Linked DNA regions of Homo sapiens: region 1 is linked to region 2. The links come from fine-mapping of genetic effects on gene expression. Tissue or cell type: whole blood. Region 2 holds a variant in brackets; the other region holds the start of a gene. All regions are shown on one strand. Distances are from middle to middle.

Evidence for each region. PIP is the estimated chance that this variant, and not a neighbour inherited with it, causes the effect.
Region 1: it holds the start of MAP3K11, and the variant in region 2 is fine-mapped to the expression of MAP3K11 in whole blood (INTERVAL, PIP above 0.99).

The regions. Positions count from the first base shown.
Region 1 is chr11:65,609,162-65,617,259 of GRCh38, forward strand. It overlaps MAP3K11 (mitogen-activated protein kinase kinase kinase 11), which reads right to left and starts at 5,060. Exons shown (of 10, transcript NM_002419.4): 1 at 3,857-5,060. The coding sequence starts at 4,595. It overlaps PCNX3 (pecanex 3), which reads left to right and starts at 6,615. Exons shown (of 35, transcript NM_032223.4): 1 at 6,615-7,303; 2 at 7,663-7,850; 3 at 8,089-8,098. The coding sequence starts at 7,151. RefSeq lists enhancers at 3,495-4,382, 5,100-5,529, 5,271-6,157, 6,040-6,089, 6,150-6,239 and 2 more and silencers at 4,670-4,849, 6,860-7,109.
Region 2 is chr11:66,368,184-66,376,282 of GRCh38, forward strand. It overlaps SLC29A2 (solute carrier family 29 member 2), which reads right to left and starts at 3,577. Exons shown (of 12, transcript NM_001532.3): 1 at 3,380-3,577; 2 at 3,061-3,142; 3 at 1,186-1,349; 4 at 877-1,016; 5 at 354-488. The coding sequence starts at 3,408. RefSeq lists a silencer at 3,273-4,032. The variant C/A (reference allele first, on the strand shown) is at 3,951.

The DNA.
Region 1 (8,098 bases), 760 kb before region 2:
ATCTGTGAGTCTCCTGTCATTTTGTTGAGGCAGGAGCGTGAATCAGAACCCCCCTTAGAGTGGGGAGCAAGAGGGAAGCTCTTGGTGAGAAAAGAAGCCCAGCAGGTACCACAGGCCCCTAGTGCCCACATCACACTGTGGCAAGTGCAGCCACTCCCAAAGCAAAGACTCCAAAAGATACCTACCAATGCAGCTGGAAGGGAAGAGAAAGGGTGGGGTCCAAGAAAGTGATGGTTCTTGGCCACAAAGGAGGAGCTTGGGGTAAATGTAGGCGTGGATGGTCAGACTTGGCAGGGGCTCATGGCTTTAACCCAAATGGGGCCACCGTACTTGGTACAAAGAGGAGAAGCAGCAACTTGCATATCTCTCACCAGGACAGGAATGGCTCAAATGAGAGAAGTTTTCGAGGAATAGAAAGAGGACAAAGTCATAGAGTCATGAAGGGTCTGAAGGGCCCCTCTACTTTTCAGGTTACAGCCAACTGCACTGTGGAAGAGAAGCAATATCAAGTCAACCATGTTTCTGGACCCATGTCAGGGCACACCTCTCAGCTCTCCTGCCCTGTGTGACACGGCTGTCATGGGGGCAGCATAGGGCACAGGGGGTGGGGCAGATGGGAAGGGCACCTAATACAGCCTGGTGAGTCAGGGAAGACTTCCCAGAGGAGGTGGCAGAACCAGGGTGCTCATTTTTCAGGGCTTAAAGCAACAAGCCCTGATCCTGCTGCTGGCCAGGCCACCTGGGCCTTGAGGAGGCATCTGGCACTGCTGCCAGCTGTCCCCGCTGCCCCACCGTCCTCAGCCCCCACAGCCCCTGGCTGCTTGGCTCTGTTTCTGTGTCCTCCACCTTCAGCCATTTCGGCGCTGGTGCTTCTCAGAGCATGACCTCTCCTCAACCTCTGCCCACTGCCCCTGGCTGACTCAGCCTCTTCCAGGTACCAGCTCCCTCTCCCCACTGGCATCTTCCACATTTGCAACTCCAGGCCAGACAAATTGGTTCAGCAGCTCTACCTGATGTCCAGGTGCCCTCCATGACCACCTTTACTATCCCGGCATGCCCAGTAGATTTTCCTGCAATTTTTCCTAATCCAGAGAATGGTCTCAAAATCTACCCACTCCTCTGAGCCAGACCTTGGAGCTGAGTCCTGAACACTTCATCAAGCTGAGGATGACAACAAAACCCTCCTCAGATGGCTGTCACGAGCATGAAACAAGACCACACTTTTAAAGTTTTTGCATGGGGGCTGCCACCTGGCAGAAGCATCCTAAAGGCCAGTTGTCCTAAAGCACTTATCGTATCTCCGCCCTCCTCTCCCTCCTCTGTCACTCCTTACTGCCAACTTCAAAACAGCCTCTGGTCTGGCTGCTGGAGGCGGGGACCTGAGCATTTAGCAAGCCCCCGACGACAAGCTCATTCCAAAGGGGAAACACAGCAGGCTGGGGCAGTGGGTGGAGTGGAAATGGGCACCTCCCCTGGTGCCAGGGCCCACCTTCCCCTTTGAAGACCAACACTTGCTGCTTCTTGGCCTGTCTCTAGCCACTTGTGGCACCCCAGACTGGCAAAGTGCTGTTCCAGTATCTCAGGCCGGGTGGCCACTCTCCACCTTTTTCAGGTGGGGAATCTGAGGCCCAGAGAGGGGCAACAACTCACCCAAAGTTTCAGGACTTCTTTGTACTTGTGGTCTTTCTGCTACCTCCCCGCTCCTGGCTCTGCCAGCTGCTAAGCCCCATCCTCTGCTTTCTCTCCAAGCTCCTCTCTGTGCTTTCAACTGTCCCAACTCGAACTGCTGTTCTGGTGTCTGATGTAGATCCCAGGCATGGGAGGTCAGGGGTCACCCAGAGGAGAATGGGCCAGAGACCCCGAAACTGGGGGAAGCTCTCAGTGCCCCTTTAGGGCTCCCTGGCCTCTGATAGGGACCTGGCCACCAGCTCCCTCCCTGGGCTGGCCTCTGTGGGGCTTGGGAGTGGCCTGGGCAGCTCACACCTCTTCCGCTTTCCTCCCGTGGTCCCTACTTCTCCTTTCTGGGAGGCCTGGGCCAGGTCTCCCACTTGGGAGGGGGAGTCCTTTTGGGGAGAACTGGGGGAGGTCAGGCCCAGGCCGGGCTGGCTGGTCAGTCCTGTGACTCGTGGGCCTGGAGAATTCCCCCTCCTCTCCCCGCCAGGCTTCCTCACAAGGCCCCCATTGTCCAGGAAAATCATGCCATTGTTTCCTGCCTGTGCCCCCCACCAGCCCAGGGACTCCCCCCACCCCAATCCTGCAGACAGCAACTTGGGCCTAGGACTGGGGTCTCCGAGGTTAAATGCCAGGCTCAGGGAGGCTGAGGGCACCTTGCCTGCCCTTTACCACCACCTCCCAGACTCTGAGAGGGAAGCAGGGGAACTAGAGGGGAGTAGGGGAGCAGTTCCAGGCTCCTTCCTCCCGCAAGTCCTCCACCCCAAGCTCTTTCCTCCCCTGCAGGCAGCTGGGCTAGGGAGGGAGCAGGGGCTGGAGCAGGGACAGGAAGCCGGCTCAGGGGCAGCAGGAAACGCAGGAAGCAGTGGGGAGGGTGGGGAGCAGGGGCCTGGGCTATTGTTCCATTTTTTCTGGAAAGAAAACGGAGGAAAAACAGAAGATGGGAGTCCCCTCCCCCTGTGCCTTCGGGGAATCCCCCTCAGATTGGGGCAGGTAGCGGGGGTCCCTAGATAGTTAGAGCCCAGGGTTGAGGCTGAGAGGTGGGAACCGCACCCTACCAGGGATGAGAAGAGTGGGTAGGATGGTTGGCAGGCCTCTCCTGGCTCCCCCAGTCCTGGCAAGAACTTGGATATCTGGGGCTCAGCACTCTGTTTCCTGCAAGCCCCTTGTCCATGGTCAGCCCAGGCCAGGAGGCTCAAAATATCCACGTTGACCCCCCTCTAAGAATGTCTCATGCTTTTCCAGTGACCACACTGAGCCTGGCCCCTCCTGCATTTCCTACTGCTGCTCTCCAGCCTGCACTCTGGGCTCTAGGAGGCCCCTGCTCCTGGTCCCTGCTGTGTGCTGGGTCCTGCTTCCATGCCTTCTCTCTCTAAATGCTGCGTGCACCAGGAAACCCTCTGAAGCTGTCACTCACTTCTCTTGGGCCATGATGGGCAGCGTGTCGGGGGCTTGAAATGATGGGAGATGGAGTCTCCCTTAGCCCAGCACTCCCATCCCAAGCACTGATTTCAGGCTAGGCCCTCTTGGCGATCCAGCCCTCAAATGTCCATCTCCATGGCTGAGGACCCGCTGTGGGTTGGGGATCGCAGGTCGGGCTTGCCCAAGCTGTTGAGCTGTTTCACTCTCCCTTTTTACAGATTCTGAAATTGAGGCTCCGAGTTGGAGTAACCAGCTAGAGGTCATGAAGCCAGGGAGGGCTAGGCCAGAATTCCAGCCCTGGCCTTAGCCTTGACTGCCAAGGAGGGCTTCCCTCTCTGAGATATCTGTTCTGGAGGAGCTGCCCATGACGACGGGAGGGGAGGACAGAGCACCAACTCCACGAACATGAATTTAGGGGAGGAGAAGATGAGGAGCACGAGCTTCCAGAGGACTTCCTTGAGGTGGGAGCCATGGCTGGGCAGGATGCTTATGGCCCACCTGAGAGATACCAATTTCTTAACTTGTCCAAACCGCAGCTGCAGGCTGGGGTCAAGGACTTCTGAAGCTGGCGCAGGAAGACTCTGCTGGGTGCCTGGGGCTCTGTTTGGGGGCTAGCTTGAGCCCATGGGCACCCCTGGTCAGCTGGGACCCCCTAGGGTGGGAGCTCCTACCTGCAGTAGACCCTAAGCTAGGCTCAGTGGAAGGTTGGGAGCAGGTGTGTACCAGAGCCATGCCACCCCCAACCATGCCCCCAGAAACTCACTGTTGTTGGACTTGAGATCACGGTGGATGACGGGCACCAGGGCCTCGCAGTGCAGGTAGTGCATCCCACGGGCAATCTGCACAGCCCAGTTGACCAGCACATGGGGAGGCACGCGCCGCCCGGCCAGAGCTCGGCTGAGGGGCCCACCGGCTGCATACTCCATCACCAGGCACAGGTTGGGCTCCTCCAGGCACACAGCCTTGAGGGCAATGATGTTGGGGTGTGCCAGCATGGCGAAGAGCCGGGCCTCCTGGCGAACGCTCTCGGCTGTCACACTGATGTCCTCATCGGGGTCCTGGCGAGCTGCCTTCACAGCCACCAGCTCACCTCGCCAGCTGCCCCTGTACACCTTGCCAAAGCCTCCAATGCCGATCACCTCCTCCAGCCGCAGCTCCTGGAAGCTGGCCACCTCGCAGGGGGGCGGGCCGCCACCCCGAGACACATAGTTGGACGGGAAGATGCCCACCTGGCCACCCACCTGGCCCGCCCACCAGCCCTCGTCTCCTGAGATGGCTGCGTCCCGGGACAGCACCTCCACACGGTCACCCTTCCTCAGGGCCAGCTCATCCTGCCCACTGGGCTCGTAGTCGAACAGGGCTGTCCACACCGGGTTGGCATAACCCGCTGCCTTTGGAGACCCCTCAGGCCGGCCTCCTCCACCGCCCCCACCACCCCCGCTGCCACTGCCATTCCATGACCCTAGAGGGCTCTTGAGGAAGAGGCTCTTCAAGGGCTCCATGGCCGGGAGCCGGCGCTGGGATGTGTGGAGGACCTTCTCTGGGTGCCCGTGGTCCCCACCCCCGCTGGCTGCCAAGGCCCTAGTCCCGGAACCTGGGCATCCGGGCCCTGGCCCTCAGCCCCAGACCCACGCCTCTCTGGGGAGCCAGGAGTGTTGTCTCCCGGCCCCCCGCATCTCGGGCTTCTGGAGGAGGGCACCCAGGGCAGTGTGGTCAGGCCGGGGGGGTGGGGCCCCGGGGCCTCCGGCGCCTCACCATGGCTAGCTTGGAGGGACCCGAGCTTCCCTCGGTTCTGGAGCAGTCCTGGGAGCCTGGCTCCGGCCCCCGCCAAGTGTAAGGTGGGGCCTTCAGGGGCAGCGCCTCAACTCCGGTTGGGTCTTTTTGCGCAGGGGGTGGAGGGAGCGTCCGCAGTTGGGCCGAGACTGCCTGTTCCTGGCCCCGTCTCCTTTGGCCCCGACGGCTCCGACCCCGCTCCCTTCTTCCTCCTCCCTTTGTACTTTGGCCCCGGGGGCGGGAGGCAGAGGTGGAGGGTGGAGTTTCACTTTTTTCCGCTCTTCTCCCTCCTGCAGGAAACAGCATCAGATGACGCGGGCGGCCTGCACCGCTCCCCTCCCAGAGGCTCCAGGCGGGGAGTTCCCGGGTAGGCGGGCCAGGAGAGGCAGAGAGGGAAAGGGCAGAACCAGATCCCCCATCACAGCAGGCTTTTGAGATCTAGAAAGAAAAGCCCCCAGCTGCGTGCTCTGCTGCCTAGGGTGGAGGTTGGTCTCTGCTAAGGATGGGCCATCTCTGCCCTCTGCATCCGCATCGGCGGCAGCAAAACGGGGTTACAGAACCACACTTGGGAAGGGGGTGAACCCGAGTCTGGTCTTGGCTGCGAAGTTGTGGGACTGTGCGATCCATCGATTCTGAGCCTCATTATTTTCTTTCTTTTTTCTTCTTTTGAGACGGAGTCTTGCTCTGTCGCCCAGGCTGGTATGCAATGGCGCAGTCTAAGCTCACTGCAACCTCCGCCTCCCGGGTTCAAGAGATTCTCCTGCCTCAGCCTCCCGAGTAGCTGGGACTACCGGCGCGTGGCACCACGGCCGGCTAATTTTTGTATTTTTAGTGGAGACGGGTTTCACCATGTTGGCCATGCTGGTCTCAAACCCCTGACCTCGTGATCCTCCCGCCTCGGCCTCCCAAAGTGTTGGGATTACAGGCGTGAGCCACCGCGCCCGGCCATTCTTTTCATATATGATATGAGGACGAGAAAGCTCTGCCTCGTAGAGCTAGTTGGATGGGGTGGGGAAGACTGGAGGACAGACGGAACTGGCTGCACCTCAAGCTCTTGGAGTGGATTGCCTAAGGCTCTCTTCTTCTCCTCACCTGGGAAACAATCCGCTTCTTCATATCCCTTCCCCATTGGCAGAAACCTGAGACTTGTCCAGAACTTTGCCCAGGATTGGATTCAGAATAGCTGAGTCGCCCTCACAACTTCTGGATAGGGCTGCCCCAATTGCTTTGAGCCTGTCACTTTAAGAAAGACGACGCTATCCTATTTCGACTATTCCTGCCTGTTACGGAAGGTTGTTCTCTACACCCTAGGTCTGAGCTCTGACCCGGAAGTAGACGCCGCTGGGAGCGAAATCGGTCGTGACGTACGAGGTCCAGCATTAAAGGGGGCGGGCCGAGAGGGGCGTGCTTCGGTAGTGCAGAACTCTCGCTGCTACTAGGGGAGTCCACGCCTCCACCTTTTCCCCGCCTCCTGTAACTCATTGGAAGAGCTGTGCGCCAATTACTTTGCCGTTACCCAATGGCTACTCAACTGTCTCTTTGGTTCCGCCCAGTCGTCTACCCTGGGTTGGCAACGCCTGGGTCTACGCATGCGCCCAAACGCTTTTACGCTCGAACTTGCTTTAGTCCTGGAGTCTGCGCACGCCCAAAGGGCACCCCTCGCGTCCTACCGCGCCATCACCTTTCTGCGCTTGCGCATTCATGCCGTCAAGTTTTCCTTTTCCGGGTCCCAATTGGAATCGTTGGGCGCATGCGCCACTGCAGGCTGGCGGTTCGCGGCTCCTTCTTCCGGCCTCCTCCTTAGGCCGGCACCAGCAGAAGCCGGGCGAGCGCGGAGCCCCAAGCAAGTGACCTGCGACCCCGAAAGTGGACCCCAGATCCTGGGGTTCTCCCTGGTCCGGAGACTAGGGAGCTGTCGCCTGCACCCCGGGAGCACCCACCCCACGACCACCTCTGGATGCCGCCGACGGGTACCCGGCCCGTGCCCCGCGCCTGCCTGCCGGCTCGGCCCCTCGGAGCAATTCTGGGCCAGGAGTGGGGACCCGGACCCCGCCCCTGATGCAGCCCCACCCCCGCGTCCGGGCCTTGCACCACTGACTGTCCCGGCCGGCCCCGCCCCCTGCTCGCACCCTCGCGCGGCCGAGCCCCCCTCCCCCGCTGGGGGAGGCCATGGCGTGAGCGTGAGGCCGGGCCCCGGGGCCCTCAGGCGCCAGACGGGGCATGGGCCGGGGGCCGCCCCCATGAGGGTCCCGGGAGGGGGGGCGCGGGCAGCAGCGGCGGGGCCATGGGGTCGCAGGTGTTGCAGATCCTGCGCCAGGGGGTGTGGGCCTCGCTCACCGGCGGTTGGTTCTTCGACCCGCACCAGAGCACCTTCTCCAACTGCTTCCACCTCTATGTCTGGATCTTCCTGCTCATCTTTCCCTTCTTACTGTACATGGTGAGACGCCACGGCCACCTGTAACTCCAGCCGGGAGAGGGAGGGCAGCCTGGCAGGGATTCAGGGCAGTGCCCTGGGCTCTGGGACGTGGAGAGAGAGGAATCACTGCAGAGTTTGGGTCTGTGTGGAAGAGGGGCCAAAGTCTTCCTTTCTTGGATCGAGTGACCTTGAACCCTACACTTAATCTCATCCAGCTAAGCAGAATACAGAGCCCTTTGTCGAGGTCTGTGTACTGGTTGTGTGGAGAGGTGATGAAATTTTCTTGTGAGTCTGTGAATCCCAGCTATGATGTTGATGGCAGGTACATCCTGTGGGGGCGAGGCTTTGTGAAAAGGGACCTGGCTTACTTTCATCTTCAGGTCCTGCCTCCCAGCTTGATGGTGGCCGGCGTGTACTGCCTCGTGGTGGCTGTCATCTTTGCTACTATCAAGACTGTCAATTATCGGCTTCATGCCATGTTTGACCAGGGCGAGATCGTGGAGAAGCGCAGCTCTACCATGGGGGAGCTGGAGGAAGAGCCTGCCCAGGGGGACAGCAATCCACCCAGGTGGGTGGGGTAGGGGCTGTGCTGGGGATTGAGGGTTTTTGGTGCCTGGGCCGGAACCTTGCAGGGTGGAGTAGGGGCTTAGGGAACATTGGCTCTCTGAGTGATTGTGAACACTTGTCCTGTGTTAGCCCTGGAATTGTAAAGTGACTTCTGAAAAAGAAGCAGTGACAAAGATGGGAGGAAGTAGCATACACAGAGGAGAGGTTAGCTCAAAGCTGCTGCTCTTTTTCACCGCCAGGGACCCCGGA
Region 2 (8,099 bases):
CAAGCCTTGTCCAACACCCCTAGCTGGTAAGCGGTGAAGCAGATTCAAACCCAAGACTATCTGAATCCCAAACCCATCCCCTTATCCTTCAACTTCAACCTGCTGCCACATGCCAGTATTAGCCCCAGGAATCCTGCCCCTGTCCCTGAGTTAACCCAGTCCTCACTTGGTTATTACTCCTCACTGCAGGGCCCATGAGCCCCACTCCCTAGCCCCAGACCCAATCCCCATTTCCATATCACCTGCTTACCTCCATCTTCACCCAGAACCCATGTGTCTTGCTCTCACATGCCCTCTCTCTTCCCCAAACCTCAGAGGCCACCCCAGCCCTCCAGCCACCCAAGTGCACTCACTGGCCATGGACAGGAGCATGGCAAGGGCAGCAAAGATCCCAGCCAGGCCCTGGCCGCTGAGGAAGAGGGTGCTGTAGGTGGAGGGCATGGTGCCCAGCTGCCCGAAGAGGCTGCCCTGTAGGACTGCACTGAAGGCTGTGGAGGACAGGGATGGGGGCTGCTGCTCAACTAGGCAAGACTCAGAGGCTCCCTGGAGGAGGTGCCGGCAGGATACACAGGGGACTCTGGACAAGGTTGCGCAGGTGTGAGCTTCCCTAGGGACTCTGAGCACTCGGGGGCAACACCCGCTATTCAGTCCTCTTCTGAGGTGCAGCCATTGGTCTGTGGGGCTGTTGACCAGGAGGCCTGCTCCTAGGTCACCGGACAAGTGACTCTTCCCCTCCCTGTGGGCCTCAGTTTCTTCACCAGGGATATGAGCGACCATGATGCTGTCTGCCCTTCTCGGATATGCTGGGCCCTTTCAATGATGAGGCCAGGCTGAAGCCCTGCATAGGCTGGCTGGAGAGGGGGTGGAGGTGCTCACAGTTGATGAAGCAGACGGAGGCCATGGTGATGGAGAAGAAGGGTCCGGGGCTCATGTCCACCTTGACCAGCGCTGCTGTCAGGGCAAAGAGCAGCAGTATGGCCAGCAGGCTGCCCAGAATGCGCACCGTCTCCGGGACGCTGCTCAGAAGCAGGCAGAGTGCATCAGTGGGGCCCAGGCCAGAGGGGGCTGGGGAAGGAGGCTCGACACCTGGGGCTGGGCAGTAGGGCTGGGGGGCAGGGGGCGCAGGGGAGGGCCTCAATGAAGCTGCCTCGGCAGAGGGCGCAGGAGCCAGGGCAGGCCTCTCACCACTGGTACAGGAAGGAGTTGAGGAGGGTGAAGAGCAGCAGGGGCAGCTGGGACAGCAGCGTCACCCAATTGTTGAAGTTGAAGGCATCCTCGGGACCCGTGTGGTTGGTGCTCAGGATCCTGGCTGTGCTGTTGCCGGCCCCGGCCAGTCGCGCCTGGAAGTACTGCCAGGTGGGGAGGTGGTGGAGGGTCAGCACCTCTCAGCCTTCCCCCGCTGCCTTCCCCCTCACTTGTGATTGCTTTCTAATGTCTGTGGGGACTTGTCTGCCTTGTCCTTGTTCTGTTCCCAGCAGCCGGCACACAGTCGGAGCTCCATGAATGTGTGCTGAGTTAAATGGCTGAAGTCTGGGACACAGCCTAAGCATTAAGAGCCCCCAGCAAGAGCCTCGATCCAGCCTTGGACGGCCCCTCCTCTTCAGTGCCCTGGTTCCAGCCCCCATCCCCACTCCTGCAGCAGCTGCTACATTCATTCATTCCACGGGTATTTATTGAGCGCCTACTGTCAGCCAGGCTTTGGCCTAGGTGCTGAACAACTGCATTCTCTCTAGAGCACATAGCCTGCCACTCCTCTGCTTAACCTCCTCACTCCTCAACACCCCGATTCATGCCTCCCTATTGCCTGCAGGGCAAAGCCCCAAATGGAACAGCTCTTCAGAATCAGATCCTAGTCTCCCTTTGTGCCCCATCTTCTGCTCCATCCTGCTAAGCTCCAGGCAGCCCTGGCTGTGGATCTCCCTCTAAACAGGCTGATCGTCTCTTGCCTGCCTGCCTTTGGCATGGCTGTCGCCTCGGCCTGGAATGCCCTACTGACCACACCCCTCCACATGCACTTTGCCTACCCTACTCCCAATTTACAAATCTCCTCTTCCATGAAGCAGAAGGAACTTTCTCCCTCCCCTGGGGACCCACTGCACTCTGCTGCAAGCCTGGAATGTCACGCATCATGTTACATTATTAATAGCTCTTTGGCCCCCTCTTGCTCTCAAGCCCAGGGGCTGATTCATCTCTGGGTTTCCAGGGCCCAGCACAGAGCCAGTACCCAAGAAGCATTTGCAAAGTTGTTGCAGTGAATACAGATGAATAACCCGGTCCCAAAGACAATGCAAACCCCACATTTCTGCCTTCCCTGAAGAGCCTCCCTGCTGTTTCCTCCTGTGTCCCCAGTGCCTGCTCCACAGTAGATGCACATTAAAAGTTTGTTGAATGAGGCTGGGCACGGTGGCTCACGCCTGTAATCCCAGCACTTTGGGAGGCCGAGGCGGGAGGATCACGAGGTCAGGAGATCGAGACCATCCTGGCTAACACGGTGAAACCCCGTCTCTACTAAAAATACAAAAAAAAATAGCCGCGCGTGGCGGCGGGCGCCTGTAGTCCCAGCTACTCGGGAGGGTGAGGCAGGAGAATGGCGTGAACCCGGGAGGCGGAGCTTGCAGTGAGCCGAGATGGCGCCACTGCACTCCAGCCTGGGCGAAAGAGCCAGACTCTGTCTCAAAAAAAAAAAAAAAAAAAAAGTTTGTTGAATGAATGAGTGAATGAATGAAATTCATGGTATTTCAAAGAAAATCAAACGTTCGATAACCGACTTTTGGGGTGACTGACTCAGGAATAACGACACACAGAGAGGGGTGGCAGCGCCTTTGCTCATTCCAGACCCTGTGGGCTGGTGGCCTTGCCCCTCTGAGATGTGGGCATTGCTGAAGTTCTACTTTCCTAGCCACGGGGGAAGCATTCCCCTCTCCGAGCTTCAGCCCATAATGAGCTCAACGAGGGGTCACAGGTGCGCGGTGAGGAAGCGCCCGCTAAGCTTCATCCAAAGGGCTGGAGGGAGGGGTGCTGGCTGTGGCCACGAGGCTGCCACGCCGCCAGGAGTCTCACCGGGATGGCGGTGATGAAGAAGTTCCAGGGAAGGAGGGTGCCCAGCCCCAGGATGAAGAAGCTGATCCCGACCAGGTGGTAGCTGTGGGGATCGGTGGGAAGGTCACCCCGAGGACGCACCCGCCTCCGCAGGCCCTCCCGCCTCCCAGGCCACCCCCTCCGGAGCGGACTACAACCCCGATCACCCCGGTTCCGGCGGCCGAGGGAGTCGGCTGATGGGAATTGTAGTTCGATCCGGTCTTCTCTGAGCCTCGGAGCGCCTTCAGGGAGCGGGTCTGCAACGCCCCCGGCCACTTGCAACGCACCCGGGCCCACTCACCTGTCCCGCGGGGCGTCTCCTCGCGCCATGGCCGCCGCGGCGGATGCGCCTGGGGTGAAAGGGGCAGAGAAGCCGCACCTGCACCTGCGCTGGGGCGGAGGGCCGCAGACCGGTGGGGCGGGGGGCGGGTCTCCCCAGATTCCGGTGCAGGGCGGCTGGAGTCGCACAGGTAGCCTCGGGCGGATTTCGGCGTGTCTCGCGCTCCGCAGGCTGGGACCTGGGCTCCGCCCCGAGGCGGGGACAGAGGGTCGCGCCACCCGTCTCTCCTTCCCCCACCCGCCTCAGGGACTCGACTCTGGCTCGGGCCCCGCCCCACCTAGGGGCCTGCGGAACCCGCCCGCTCCCCGCACAGCCCCTCCCCGCAGCCCCCCGTCCTCTCCGCGGGGGCGGGTCCCGGATCCCTGCGGCGGAGGGGAAGGCGGGGGTAGGGACGAGGTGTAACCTCACCTCCACCCCCCGCCGAGAGCTCTGTAGGGGCAGCACTGGTGCGGGGCTCTTCCCGCTTCGTCAGCTCCGAGGTGATGCCAGAGCCGCTCCTGCGACCCCTAAAGCTGGAACCCACCGGGGCGCC[C/A]CCTAACTAGGGAGCCGCTGCGGAGTCCCCGCCCAGAGCGTAACCCGAGCCGGGCCCGGGCGGGGGAACCAGAGCTGCCACAGGTCGCCCGCGATCCTGGCGGGCTTCGCCGCGCTGGGTCCCCGGGAGTGCCTGGAAAAAAACAGCATTACTTTCAACTCCCTACTCTTTTTCTGTTAAAAAAAAAAATTTGAAAAGACTATAAATCATTAATTTGCTCCTACTCTCATAATCTACGAATAGGTGTGGGTTCTCTGCAATCCCCGGGCGTATCGGGGACGCTGGAGAAGTGAGAGGCTCCAAAACACAAACTAGTTTTTTTGAGACTGAGTGTCGCTCTGTCGCCCAGGCGGAAGTGCAGTGGCGTGATCTTGGCTCACTGCAACCTCCCCCTCCCAGGCAGGTTCAAGCGATTCTGGTGCCTCAGCCTCAGGAGTAGCTGGGACTACAGGCGCATGCCACCACGTCCGGTTAATTTTTGTATTTTTAGTAGAAACGGGGCTTCACCAGCTCTACTGAAGAGGTGGCCAGTCTAGTCTCGAACTCATCTTTTGACCAGGCTGGTCTCGAACTCTTGACCTCAGGTGATCCGCCCGCATCGGCCTCCCAAAATGTTGCTATTACAGGCGTGAGCCACCACGCCCGGCCACAAACTATTTTCTTAAGCAATGACATTTTATAGCCATTCCCAGGTTGCTTATGTTTTTCCTCCAGCCGACTGAGAGTCTGTAGGGGCAGAGGCTGTGCTTATCTGGTCCATTGGTTTACTGGCAGCATCTAGCGCCGTTGAGTGATAAATGGGTGGTTGCAGTAAAATGCAGGTGATTTTAGGGAGAACAGAGACAGCATTAAATTACACCGAAAGAGAAAGTTATTCTTCCCATTTTCTTTCAAGCCTCTGAATATGTCAAGGGTGTTAACAGGTTGCTAACACTTCTTAATCTGCCTTCCCATCCCTTCCCCTCAGTTAGCCTCAGAGGGTCTGCTGACAATTTTATCAAAAGTTATTAACTTGTATTTTTCTTATATTTATTTTTATAGCAACTTTATTTTCAGGGCTACTCATACTGGTTTCCTATTTATGATTATGATATCAACTTTTCTTTGAAAAATCAATTTATTTATGGAAAATGAGTTATTTAAAGAAAAGCGAGGCCGCTGGTGCAGCACAGCTATGGCACAGGTTGTGAAGGAAGGACTTGAGAATGGAGGCTAGGGAGCACTGAATTTGTTGAGACAGTGAAGGGAGAGGATGAGGGCATTTCAGGGAGAGAACAGCCTGTCCCAAGACAAGGGACAAGAGAGTGCTGACACATTCTGGGACATACAAATAGATCCCTTTGGCTGGCATTGGTGGGAGGAGGGGACAGAGCCTCTACAACAGCCAGGCTGGTTATGGCAAGTCTGAGGGCTGATTAAGGAGTTCAGATTTCATTTCAAAGCACAGACGGTCAGCTGGAGCCGATTCCATCGTCCTTGTAATAAATATTTTGTTACTATCCTGCAATGAAACTCATATAAAACAAAACCTACCTATACACAATAACATTTGATGTCGAGATAATATCCTGATTTTACTGCAGATGAATCATAAGGGAAATTATTTAGTAATAACATGGTGTGTGTGAATGTGTTAATATTCATGGTACATGAAGCTGTCAAATGCTTGCCCTTCTTTCTAAAACTGCAGTGAATCCACGGCTACAAACTCACATGCGATACAGGCATGCAGTGAAACTGGCCACTCAGAGACCCACTAGTTTGCCAGGATTTTCTTTTCTTTTCTTACCTTTTTTTTTCTTTTCTTTTTCTCTTTTTTTTTCTTTTTTTTTTTTTTTTCAGACGGAGTCTCTCTCTGTTGCCCAGGCCAGAGTGCAGTGGCAGGATCTTGGCTCACTACAACCTCTGCCTCCTGGGCTCACACGATTCTCCTGCCTCAGCCTCCTGAGTAGCTGGGATTACAGGCGTGTGCCATGATGCCTGGCTAATTTTTGTATTTTTAGTAGAGACAGGATTTCGCCATGTTGGCCAGGCTGGTCTCGAGCTCCTGACCTCAGGTGATCTGCCCGTCTCAGCCTCCTAAAGTGCTGTAATTACAGGCATAAGCCACTAAACCCAGCCTCTTTTCTTTAAAAAAAAAAACAATTTTTTTTTTGAGACACAGTCTTGCTCTGTCACCTAGGCTAGAGTGCACTGGCGCAATCTCAGCTCACTGCAACCTCTGCCTCCCAGGTTCAAGTGATTCTCCTGCCTCAGCCTCCCCTAGTAGCTGGGATTACAGGCACAAGCCACTATGCCCGGCTAATTTTTGTATTTTTTAGTAAAGATGGGGTTTCACCATCTTGGCCATGCTAGTCTTGAACTCCTGACCTCGTGATCCACCCACCTCAGCCTCCTAAAGTGCTGGGATTACAGGCGTGAGCCACAGTGCCCGGCCTAAAAAAAAACTTTTTTCCTCATTTATGTTTTAAATTTTATTTTTATTTATTTTATTTTATTTTACTTATTATTATTATTTTTTAAGACAGAGTTTTGCTCTTATTGCCCAGGCTACAGTGCAGTGGTGCAATCTTGGCTCACTGCAAACTCCACCTTCCGGTTTCAAGCAATTCTCCTGCCTCAGCATCCCAAATTGCTGAGATTACAGGCGCCCACCACCACGCCCAGCTAATTTTTTTGTATTTTTAGTGGAGACAGGGTTTTACCATGTTGGTTAGGCTGATCTCGAACTGCTGACCTCGTGATCCACCTGCCTCGGCCTCCCAAAGTGCTGGGATTACAGGCGTGAGCCACCGCTCCTGGCCCTATTTATTTATTTTTTTGATACATAATAGATGTACATATTTTCAGGGTGTATGTGATAATTTAATCTATTCATATAATGTGTAAAGATCAAACTAGGACAACTGAGATGTCCATCACCTTAAATATTTGTCTTTTCTTTATGCTAGGATGTGATTTTCTTAAATGTGACCAAGTCCTGGTCAAGTTCCAAAGAAGTCAAAGGGCAGCTGTCCGTCAACACAGACAGTAGCTGTGTTACTGAAGAATGCTGTGTATATTCAAGCCTTGCAAATAATACATTTTGTCTAAATGTAAAAAGGATTTAGAGTCTAGGCTCAGAAAAATTATCAACATGGTTTTAAAAAATAAATAATAGATTTTATTTTTAGGTTGTACTTAATCTAATGTTAAACCTGTGTACTGAATTTCATTCAACATTGATGATGATGATGATGATGATGATGATGATGATGATGATTATTATTATTATTATTATTTGAGATGGAGTTTTGCTTTTGTTGCCCAGGCTGGAGTGCAATGGCGTGATCTCGGCTCACTGCAACCTCCACCTCCCAGGTTCAAGCGATTCTCCTGCCTCAGCCTCCCGAGTAGCTGGGATTACAGGTGCGAGCCACCACACCTGGCTAATTTTTGTATTTTTAGTAGAGACAGGGTTTCACCATGTTGGCCAGGCTGGTCTCGAACTCCTGACCTCAAGTGATCCACCGGCCTCAGCCTCCCAAAGTGCTGAGATTACAGGCATAAGCTACTGGGCCCAACCTGGCTTCTTTCATTTATATGTGTGCTTAAGGATCCTGCATGTCTTTTCTTGGCATGATAATTCATTTCTTTTTTTTTTAATTTTTTAAATTTTTGAGATGGAGTTTCACTCTTGTCGCCTAGACTGGAGTCCAGTGGCATGATCTCAGCTCACTGCAACCTCTGCCTCCCAGGTTCAAGTGATTCTTCTGCCTCAGCCTACCAAGTAGCTGGGATTACAGGTGCCTGCCACCATGCCCAGCTAATTTTTGTATTTTTAGCAAAGACAGGGTTTCCCCATGTTGACCAGGCTGGTCTCGAACTCCTGGCCTCAAGTGATCTGCCTGTCTCGACCTCCCAAAGTGCTGGGATTACAGGCATAAGCCACCGCGCCCAGGCAACACATTTATTTTTATTGCTAAATAATACTCCATTGTATGAATTGCCATGGTTTGTTTATCCATTTACCTATTTCAAGACGTCTTGGTGGCTTCCATGTTTTGGTGATCACAAATAAAGATGCTATACACAATTGTGTGGAGGTTTTTGTGTGGACATAAGTTTTCAATTTATTTGGGTTAAATGCCGAGGAGCACCATTGCTAGG